Regions from separate parts of the Homo sapiens genome. Here region 2 is linked to region 1. Evidence: fine-mapped expression QTL. A gene starts in region 1. The other region holds a variant in brackets. All regions are shown on one strand. Distances are from middle to middle.

What was found. PIP is the estimated chance that this variant, and not a neighbour inherited with it, causes the effect.
Region 2: its variant is the best candidate, but not a certain one, in a credible set for the expression of RUSC2 in whole blood (INTERVAL, PIP 0.55).

Annotation. Positions count from the first base shown.
Region 1 is chr9:35,487,248-35,492,621 of GRCh38, reverse strand. RUSC2 (RUN and SH3 domain containing 2) reads right to left here and starts at 2,511. Exons shown (of 12, transcript NM_014806.5): 1 at 2,450-2,511. LOC105376026 (a long non-coding RNA gene) reads left to right here and starts at 995. Exons shown (of 2, transcript XR_929580.4): 1 at 995-1,191; 2 at 1,366-1,503. RefSeq lists a silencer at 2,543-2,842.
Region 2 is chr9:35,581,540-35,586,913 of GRCh38, reverse strand. No RefSeq gene overlaps it. Among named protein-coding and RNA genes, the nearest start is that of CIMIP2B, 20 kb to the right of the region's middle. The variant G/A (reference allele first, on the strand shown) is at 2,550.

The sequences.
Region 1 (5,374 bases):
TGTTGTTAGGATTCCCTTCTACCCCATCACCTAGCTCTATCAGAGCAATGTTGACATCTGGCTACTCAAAATGATGCTCTCGTTTCGTATGACGGACTCATTTGACAAAAATTATATTAAATGCCAATGTCTGAATGGGTGTTTTTTTTTTTTCCTGGGTAACTTCAACACTGATCAATCAAGACCATTTCTAGATAGCCTGCCCTTACCCTAACATGAAGTGAACCATCTCTTCAGTCAAGTGACTTTTAGCAGGGTGCATAGTCATTGTGTATGAGTAACAGGAAGAAAAGGGTGAGTTATTATCCTAAATTTGCAGATAAGCCCAGAGAGAAAAATAGAACACATAAGCCCTCCCATGAACTTGCCAGATTTAGCAAGTAAAAATACAGGACTCCCTGTTGTTTATTTGAAATTCAAATTTAACTGGGCACTCTGCGTTTTATCTGGCAACACTGAAGTATTGGAGGTGAGGAGAAAAATAACCCAGGGTGTTCTGGGGTAACTGAGGTCTTAACAGGAAGCCTAGACAGGAAAAAGTAGAAAAGGCCATTAAAAAGATACTGTTAAAAAAAAATTGTATTGCTTAATCCATCCAGATCAGGAGCCCCTCCCCACACTGGGTTTCTATGATCCAAGGCTTTATTTTGAGACAGAGCATTGCTCTGTCACCCAGGCTGGAGTGCAGTGGCATGATCTCAGCTCACTGCAACATCTGCCTCCCAGGTTCAAGGGGTTCTCCTGCCTCAGCCTCCTGAGTTGCTGGGACTTCAGCCTCCTGAGTTGCTGGGACTACATGTGCACACCACCATGCCCGGTAATTTTTGTATTTTTAGTAGAGATGGGGTTTCACCATGTTGGCCAGGCTGATCTTGAACTTCTGACCTCTAGTGATCCGCCCACCTGGGCCTCCCAAAGTGCCGGGATTACAGGCTGAGCCACTGTGCCTGGCCTGATCCAAGACTTTATAAAGACATGTAAGAGGGTGGGAGACAGAAAGCGGAAAAGGATACATCAAAACTAGCAATGGATGAATGAGAACATGTCCAGCCTCCAGTTAAGGCAACTGTGGCTTCAAAAAGGAATCTTAAATACCAGCACAGAAATCAGAGGGATCCTAACCTGGCTCAAAACAGAAGAGAAACAGTGGCTGGCCATACAGCAGGACGGGCATAACTAACAGAATACCAGGTATACTGTTTGGATCTGCTCTTCCTTCCATTAAGCCATCCACCACTGCTTAATATCTAAGGAGCCGGCTAAGAAAATCCAGTCACTACTTTTATTTGCTAATACTTTGAGCCCCAGTTACAATAATGCCACTACTAATTAGGTAACTACTTTCTACCTTATCAACTCCTACAGCTTTCCAGCCATTGTTTCATCCCTCAGCGATACCACCTGCTTCCGCGTGGAACCCAAACCCCCAGGAAACTAAATCTGCTCAGGTCACCCACCTAGGAATAAATAAAAACAGGTTTCAGGCCCTTTGTCCTTTGTAAATTCCGCCTTTTTTTTTTTTTTAAGGCCTGTGTTCTTTATCACGGACACTGTTCACATAGTGGTAATCCTTGCCTGACTCAGATCTACTTGTTCCTGCGTTTCATTCCTCCGCTGCTCAATTACTTGTTCAAAACGCAAAGGACAACTGGTAGTGAAGACCCTCCACCAGCAACACTACCATGTGCCAGGCACCGTGCTGGGGACCGGGGATACAAAGATGAGTAGTGTACCGTCCTTGCCCCCAGGACAGTTCCCCGTGTCCGCAGGGCCGGCCTGGAGGGCCACAGCCAACTGTGGGCAACAGGATCACCGTGCCCTTCGCGGCAAGTGAGTGCAGTAGTAGGGGACGGTTACTGCCAAGCCAAAGGTTTTCTCCAGGTAAAACTGGATGACAGAGAGACAGAGACTGAAGCAACGCCGGCGCCGGGCGGATAATAAAGGGAGGCAGGGGCTAAAAGGGTGGAGGGAGCAGAGGACCCGGCCGGGAACTGGCAGTAGGGAGGCCCCCGCTGCAGTCGCCGGCCTGGGTGCCGGGCGGCCACGCTTCCCCAAAGCCGTCACAGGGACTTGGGGTACCAAGGTGACTACTGGGCGCGAGTCGTTTTGTGGGGGGAGGGTGTCCCCAAGGGGGCAGTTTGAGGAGACGGTTGGGGATGCATCTGGGGTGGCGCCCAAAGGGACGGTGGGTGCTGGGTGTTTGAAGGTCCGGTGGACGCAGAGCTGAAGGGTCAGGAGAAGGCCAAGGGTCAGAAGGGCTGGGGACGAGGTCTGCCCAGGGGGTCGGGGCGGACGCAGAGGGCGGGTGCAGCCGAGGGGGAAGGGCTGAAGGGAAGGGCAGGCGCTGAAGGCACATAGGTGGGAAGACAGGCCCTCCCCTAAGGGAGACCTTGGAACGCGGGGCAGTGGGTCTGTGGGACCCTGCCCGCCTCCGGAGAGGCGTTCCTACCTCGTTTCTCGCCTCAGCCTCGTCCTTCCGCGCCGGCGGCGGCGGCGGCGGCGGCGTGTCTCGCCCTCCAGGGGTCGCGTTGCAGGCTAGAGGCGCCGGCGGCCCCTCCCTCCGGGCGGGTTGGAAAGGCCGGCCCCTGTCGGCGTGGCGCGATGGTCCGATCTGGGTTGCCCTCAGGCCGCCCCTCCGGGCGGCGCGTTGGTTCGGTCCGCCCGGCCTAAGGTGCTCGCCCCCTCCCCGGCTCCCGCAGCGATGGGCGCAGCCGAGTCACGCGCAGAGCTTTCCCGCTAAGGGAGCGGAGAGGCTTCCGCCGTGGCCCAATCTTCTGCGGCCCGCGCCCGCCCCCGCGGGGTGGTGCCTGGCGACGCGCGGCTCCCGGGTGCTGGAACCCAGGGAAACCTTCCGCGGGCCTCCAGGGCCGGTGGGTGTGAGTCCCAGCTTCGCCTGAGGCGGCGGTTCTCAACGCTGGCTTCCCAGTAGAACCTAGTGTGGAAACTAACCAAACAACAGAAGGAGGGCTGACCTCACACTGGACCGACTCAGAACCACTGGGGTGGAGTGGGGTGGGGTGAGGTGGGGTTGGCCTCCAGTGCATAGCCAGGGTTCGGAACCCCTGATGAAACGTAGAACCCATGCGCCCCCTGCCCTTCAGGGCCGGATGTGTGGGGGACATGGAAGATGCCTGTGTGTGACTCCTGCTGTTTACAGCCAGAGGGGGATGGGGCAGGCAGTCCTGCAAATGTTATGGGAAACCCACTGTATTAGTCCGTTCTGACACTGCTATGAAGAAATACTATGAAGGAAAGAGGTCTGACTCACAGTTCCGCATTGTTGGCGAGGCCTCAGGAAGCTTATAATCATGGCAAAAGGCAAAGAAGTAGCCATCCTTTTCGCAGGGTGGCAGGACAGAGTGAGTGCAGGCAAGGGAAATGCCAGACGCTTATAAAATCATCAGATCTTGTGGGACTCACTCACTGTCACGAGAAGGGCGCAGGGGAAACCAGCCCCATCATCCAATTACCTCCACCTGTTCCCGCCCTTGACACAGGGGGATTATGGGAATTACAATTCAAGATGAGATTTTGGGTGGGGACACAGCCAAACTGTTACAGGTAGTTAGGCATGAGCGGGGCAGGAGAGGGTTCTCCCCTGCTACCCACTAGGGATGTTGGGTGATGGTTCTGAGGCAGGAGAATAGGGACTGGAGGCAGGGAACCTAAGACTGGTTCATGCCAACTTCCTGGAACTAAATTGAAAGGAAAACCCTAACTTTCCACACCTAAGTAACAAACCCCCCACCCAACTTTTCTGCCCAGCAGATGGGAAATTGGCTATCTGCAACCAATTAGACTGACTGCAGCCGAGTCTAACTTTGCATAGAAGTATAACTTTGTAACTTCACCCTAGCCTCTGATTGGTTGCTTCTTGCAACCAATCAGATGTTTGCACAGGTGTGCGACCTTTGTAACTTCACTTCAGCCTCTGCTTGGCTGCTTTCTGCAACCAATCAGACTGATTGCAGGCTACGAATTCATTTACATGAGGTGAGCATGAAGTGGCGGGTAACTTCTAGGGGGTATTTGGACCCAAGAAGATTCTGTTTCCTGGCCCTTGAGCCGCTGCTCCGGCTGCTCCCACACTGTGGAGTGTGCTTTCGTTTTCAATACATCCCTGCTTTCCTTCTTTTGTTCCTTCATTCTTTCTTTGCTTTGCTGGGCGTTTTGTCCAATTCTTTGTTCAAAACGCCAAGAACCTGGACAACTTGCAGTCAGACCCTCTACCAGTGACAGTTCCATAATTACCTCATTGCTTCTTTAAAAAGGATAATTCGGCTGGGCCAGGGAGAGGCCATTTCCTGATGGTCCACACATGTTAACATCAAAATGCTAATTGAATGCAGGCCTCAGGGAGAAGCAACTTTCTGGGCATGCGTGTTAAGAGACAAAAATGGTGACGTATGATCTCCTGGGGGCACCCTCCACCGGAAAACGGGAAGGAAAGCACTGCGCATTCGGGAAGCCCACTCTAAGGGAAGAATCATGGGAAAGAGGCCAGCCTGTAAAAGTCCTAGGATCTTGGTTAGGCACTTGACCTTCTCTCTTTAACCTTCACGTGCCCGCTTGGGTTTCTTCCAAGCGCACCTTCCTTTCTTTCCTGTTCTAAGGCCTTTTTAAATAAACTTCCATTCCTACTCTGGAACTTGCCTTGGTCTCTTTTTCTGCTTTCTGCCCCACAGTCGAATTCTTTCTTCTGATGAAGCAAGGACTAAAGTTGCTACAGACCCATAAGGATAGGCTGCAGGTAACTTGGGGTAACTCAGACCTCTTCCACCACTAACAAAACCATATCACCCATTGAGAAGACTCTTAGGCTAGACGCGGTGGCTCACGCCTGTAATCCCAGCACTTTGGGAGGCTGAGGCGGGCGGATCACCTGAGGTCAGGAGTTTGAGACCACTAGCATGGTAAAACCCCGTCTCTACTCAAAATACAAAAATCAGCCGGGTGTGGTGGCGCATGCCTGTAATCCCAGCTACTCGGGAGGCTGAGGAAGGAGAATCACTTGAACCTGGGAGGCGGAGGTTGCAGTGAGCTGAGATTGCGCCATTGCACTCCAGCCTGGGCAACAGAGCAAGACTCTGTCTCAAAAAAAAAAATAGAAGACTCTGTTCTAGGTTCCATACTCACTGAAAGAGTTAGAGACTGGGGTCACAGTCAAGGAAGCAGATAAATGTCAGGATATGTAGCTTGTCTTCAGGCTTCACAGAAGTGGTGTGAGCTGAATTTTGAAGAATGAGTGGGAGGTAAAGAGAGAATTGGCATGTGCAAAAGAACTGAGGGGCAAAATGACCAATGTGATTGAGAAGTGTGGGAGGCAACGGAGACAGCTGAGGAGAGCTGGTCAGGGTTTGGTGATGAAACGCCT
Region 2 (5,374 bases), 94 kb before region 1:
TGGATACAGAATTCTTGGCTGATAATTGTTTTGTTTAAGGAGACTGAAAATAAGACCCCAATCCCTTCTAGATTGTAGGGGTTTCTGCTGAGAAATCTGCTGTTAATCTGATAGGTTTTCCTTTATAGTTTACCTGATGCTATTGCCTCACAGCTCTTAAGATTCTTTCCTTTGTCTTGACTTTAGATAACCTGATGACTATGTGCCTAGGTGATAGTCTTCATGCGATGAATTTCCCAGGTATTCCTTGAGCTTATTGTATTTGGATGTCTAGATCTCTAGCAAGGCCAGGGAAGTTTTCCTCAATTATTCCCTCCAATATGTTTTCCAAACTTGTAGTTTTTTGTTTTGTGTTATTTTGTTTTTGAGACGGAGGTTTGCTCTTGTTGCCCAGGCTGGAGTTCAGTGGTGTGATCTTGGCCCACTGCAACCTCTGCATCCCAGGTTCAAGCAGTTCTCCTGCCTCAGCCTCCCGAGTAGCTGGGATTACAGGCATGCACCACCACACCCAGCTAATTTTGTATTTTTAGTAGAGATGGGGTTTTACCATGTTGGTCAGGCTTGTCTGGAACTCCTGACCTCAGGTGATCCACTCGCCTTGGCCTCCCAAAGTGCTGAGATTACAGGTGTGAGCCACCACGCCTGGTCTCTAGAGGGTATTTAAACCCCAGAAAATTCTGTAACTGATGCTCTTGAGCCACTTGCTTGAGCCCACTCCTACCCTATGGGGTGTGCTTTTACTTAAAATAAGTTTCTGCTTTTACTGCCTTGCTTTGTGTGTTTTGTCTGATTATTTGTTCAAAACGCCAAGAACCTGGACAACTACCCTCAACCAGTAACACTATTGCTCATTTATTTCTGGTGTTCTTGGGTCTTACGGGGTTATAGACTGTGTGACTCCTGGAGGGGAAAGGGTGGCCAACATACAGTCACCTCTGTTTCATGTTTTTGATATACAAGGGAAAGCTATTCTTAAAAGAACAGGTGACTCCCCAGGGAGTCAGGAGTGGTTACAGGGCATGACTTCTTCCCACTCATGGCCACAAACAAAAACAAGCCCAGTTGGAGCACAAACAGGGTCCCTACGGGGTGCGATGCCTACCCTTTGCTGCCAAGTTGTGTCTATAGAGATATTTTTCCCTGTTCTAATTGGGGTGGTTGAACAATCTTTGTTTTCCAAAAGGGGAGGAGGTACTCCCACCTTCCCAGACTAAATAGTTGTTTTTCTCCCATGTGTTCCTTTTTTTTTTTCTCCTGTATGTTCTGATCCAGGGGAAGGAACCATAGATGGTCTCATTGCTTACAAGTTCTATCCCATTTACTTTGCTGTGGCATTGGGAACTTGGCAACTAAGGCTGGATCAGAGCATTGCAGGAAACTTGGCTTTTGTGTCATTAACACAACACTGGGTGCCAAAGATAGAATCATTAGTGCACTAGAAGTATAGATACCCAACTTTCCAGGTCCACATAATAGCAGTGAGGGGGTTCAGGTGGAACCCATTAAGTGGGGGAGAGTTCCATCTAACAAGTAATAGTCTGGGGAGAGGCAGTGAGATTTTTCCGGGTAGGCCTTATGGACTTGCTTTTTAATCAGCTGTAACTCTGCCTCAGCCTCCTTTGTTAATTGTTGAGGGCTAGTGAGACTAAGATCTCCTCTAAGGATAGAAAATAGATTACTCATGGCATAGGTAGGAATGCCTAGAGCAGGTTGTGTCCAATTAATGGTCTTTAGTCATTTTTGAAAGTCATTTAATGTTTTCAATTGATCTCTACGTATGGTTACTTTCTGTGGCACAATTGTAGTGTCATTTACTAAGGTCCCCAAGTAGGAGTAAGGAGTAGTAGTCTGAAATTTGTCAGGGGCTATAATTAAACTGGCAGGAAAAATCAAGTTTTGCAAGTGATCATAACATTGGAGTAATATTTCTCGAGTGGGGGCAGCACAAATTATATCTTCTATACAATGAGTAATGTAACACTGTGGAAATTTTTTACGAGTCGGTTCAATTGCTTGTCTTACATAAGTCTGGCAAATTGTTGGACTGTTCAACATGCCTTGAGGCAACACTTTCTAATGAAAATGCTTAGCAGGCTGCAGGTTGTTTACTGCAAGAATTGTAAATGCAAACCATTCAGTCTTGCTTAGCTAAGGGGATAGTAAAGAAACAGTCTTTTAAATCTATGACTATTAAAGACCAGTTTTTTGGAATCATAGCAGGAGAAGGCAGTCCTGGCTGTAATGTCCCCATAGGTTGTATAATTGAATTAATGGCCCTTAAGTCAGTTAACATTCTCCATTTACCTGATTTTTTCTTAATTATGAAAACTGGAGAATTCCAAGGGGAAAATGTTGGAGCTATGTGTTCTTTTTCTAATTGTTCAGTAACTAAGTCCTCTAAAGCCTCCAGTTTCTCTTTACTCAGTGGCCATTGTTCTATCCAAATTGGCTTATTCATTAACCATTTTAAAGGTATAGGTTCTGGAGGCTTAAAAATGGCCGCCATCAAAAATAATAATCTTAAACCTTGGTGGGAAATTTGTCTTTCC[G/A]CTTGAAGCGGTTCCTTCGAACTTTGCAAATTTTTTCCTAGTCCCGTACCAGGAACATACCCCATTTTATGCATCATATGTTGACTTTGAGGGCTGTATAATTGTTCTGGAATTAGAACTTGTGCTCCCCATTGTTGTAATAAATTTATAGGTACAGAAGTTATAATTGGTTGAATAGTCCAGGTTGTCCATTGGGCCCTTCACAATGCAAAATATAACTACTTTAATATACTTCAGGGGCTTTACCAACTCCAACTATGTTAAATTGAGCGGGTTGAATTGGCCACGTGGACGGCCAGTGCTGTAGATAAATGATTGAAACGTCCACTCCTGTATCTACCAAACCTTTAAATTTCTTTCCCTGAATAGTTATTTCACAGGTAGGATGTTTATCAGTAATTTGATTCACCCAATAAACTGCTTTGCCTTGTTTATTTGTGCTTCCAAATCCTCCTGTTCATTTAATTTCACTTTTCCCCATTTCTACATATGGCACAATCAGGAGTTGTGTTATATGCTGTCCTGGCTCTGCTTTCCAGGGAACAGAAGTAGATATAACAACGTGAATTTCCCCATTGTAATGTGAATCAGTGACTCCTGTTTGTACTTGCACTCCTTTTAAATTTAAACTAGACCTGTCTAGAAGTAATCCTATTGTCCCAGCTGGCAAGGGTCCACAGACCCCTGTTGGAACTTTTTTGCAGAGGTTCCCCAGGCAGAAGGCTCCACAGCTTTTGTGCAGCATAAATCTACTGCGGCACTACCGGCTGTGGCAGGGGACAGACATTGTATAGGGGTGAGGGAATGGCCTGAGCCGGAAATGCCCCGGTTTGGAACGGGCCTGGGACGGGCCCTGAACGGGCCCCTCATGGCATTTCCCGAAATTGGGTTTCCATCCTTATCAAATTTAGAATGATGCTGATTGGCCCAATGTTTTCCTTTTTTACACTTCAGGCATATACCTGGTTCATACTGATAGCCTGTTTAAACTCTTTAAGTAATTTAAAGAGAAAAGCCTCAAATATAGCTATAATATTTCTCTGTTGATCTGGGGGGTATATCCTAACAGGGAACTGCCAAGCCTCTATATCACCCTCTCCTTTTCTTTCTTTTTTTTTTTTTTTGAAACGGGTCTCACTCTGTCACACAGGCTGGAGTGCAGTGGCACGATCTCTGCTCACTGCAAGCTCTGCCTCCCAGGTTCATGCCGTTCTCCTGCCTCAGCCTCCCCAGTAGCTGGGACTACAGGAGCCCGCCACCATGCCCGGCTAATTTTTTTTGTATTTTTAGTAGAGACGGGGTTTCACTGTGTTAGCCAGGATGGTCTCGATCTCCTGACCTCGTGATCCGCCCACCTCAGCCTCCCAAAGTGCTGGGATTACAGGTGTGAGCCACCAGTTCCGGCCTATATCACCCTCTCTTCTAGCTTGCTGGATTCCTGCCTGAATAGAACTGACAGCAGTCACTCGAAGAGCTGCTCGAACAGTCACTGGGGCAACTACTTTTCGCCCAGTGTCCTCCGTAAAAGAAAGATCTGGAGGGTCAGGCTGCTCTTTTTCTTCAAAATAAGGAGGGAGTGCAGAAAGGTAGGGATGAACTCTTCCTCCTTTGCCTCTTTAGCTTTAGCTGGCAAACAAACCTGCTCTGTTACCTTTTCTGTTACTTTGTTATACTCTCCTTCCTCCTCATCATCAGTGTGAAAAGGTTCCAAGGTGGGACGAACCAGAGCCCACACTTGTCCCATTGTTACCCTGATGCTTCTGAGCTCCCCTTCTTACTCACTACAGGGATTGCTTAAGAGTACTTGGGTGTCCTCCAGCTTAGTTCCACATTCTCCAACCATTGCTCCGGCAACCCTTCGATCTGGGTTCGAGCCCCACTTGCTGAGACCAGCTCCGTCGTGGAGACCCTAACCCAGCCGTGCTGGAGGAATTAAAGACACACACACAGAAATATGTAGTGTGGAGTGGGAAATCAGGGGACTCAACAGCCTGCAGAGCTGAGAGCCCCAAACAGAGTTTGACCCACATATTTATTGACAGCAAGCCAGTGATAAGCATTATTTCTATAGATTATAGATTAACTAAAAGTATTCCTTACAGGAAACAAAGGGATGGGCCGAAACAAAGGAATGGGCTCTGGCTAGTTATCTGCAGCAGCAACATGTCCTTAAGGCACGGATCGCTCATGCTATTGCTTGTGGTTTAGGAACACCTTTAAGCAGTTTTCTGCCCTGTGTGGGCTAGGTGTTCCTTGCCTTCATTCCAGTAAATCCACAACCTTCAGTGTGGGTATCATGGCCATCACGAACATGTCACAGTGCTGCAGAGATTTTGTTTATGGCCAGTTTTGGGGTCAGTTTATGGCCAGATTTGGGGACCAGTTCCCAACACATGGCTGTAATCCCAGCTACTCAGGTGGCTGAGGCACAAGAATCACTTGAACCTGGGAAGAAGAGTTACAGTGAGCCAAGATTGCACCACTGCACTTTAGCCTGGGCAACAGAGTGAGACTCTGCCAAAACAAAACAAAACAAAACAAAGAGTACCTGAGACTGGGTAATTGTAAAGAAGAGAGTTCAATTGACTCACAGTTCCACGTGGTTGGGGAAGCCTTAGGAAACTTACAATCATGGCAGAAGGCAAAGGGGAAGTAAGGCACATCTTACATGGCAGGAGAGAGAGAGAGCGAGGGAGGAAGTGCTACACACTTTTAAATCATCAGATTTCATGAGAACTCACTATCGTGAGAACAGCCTGGGGGAAATCCGCCCCTAAGATTCAACCGTGTTTCTCCCCCAACATTGGAAATTATAATTCAATATG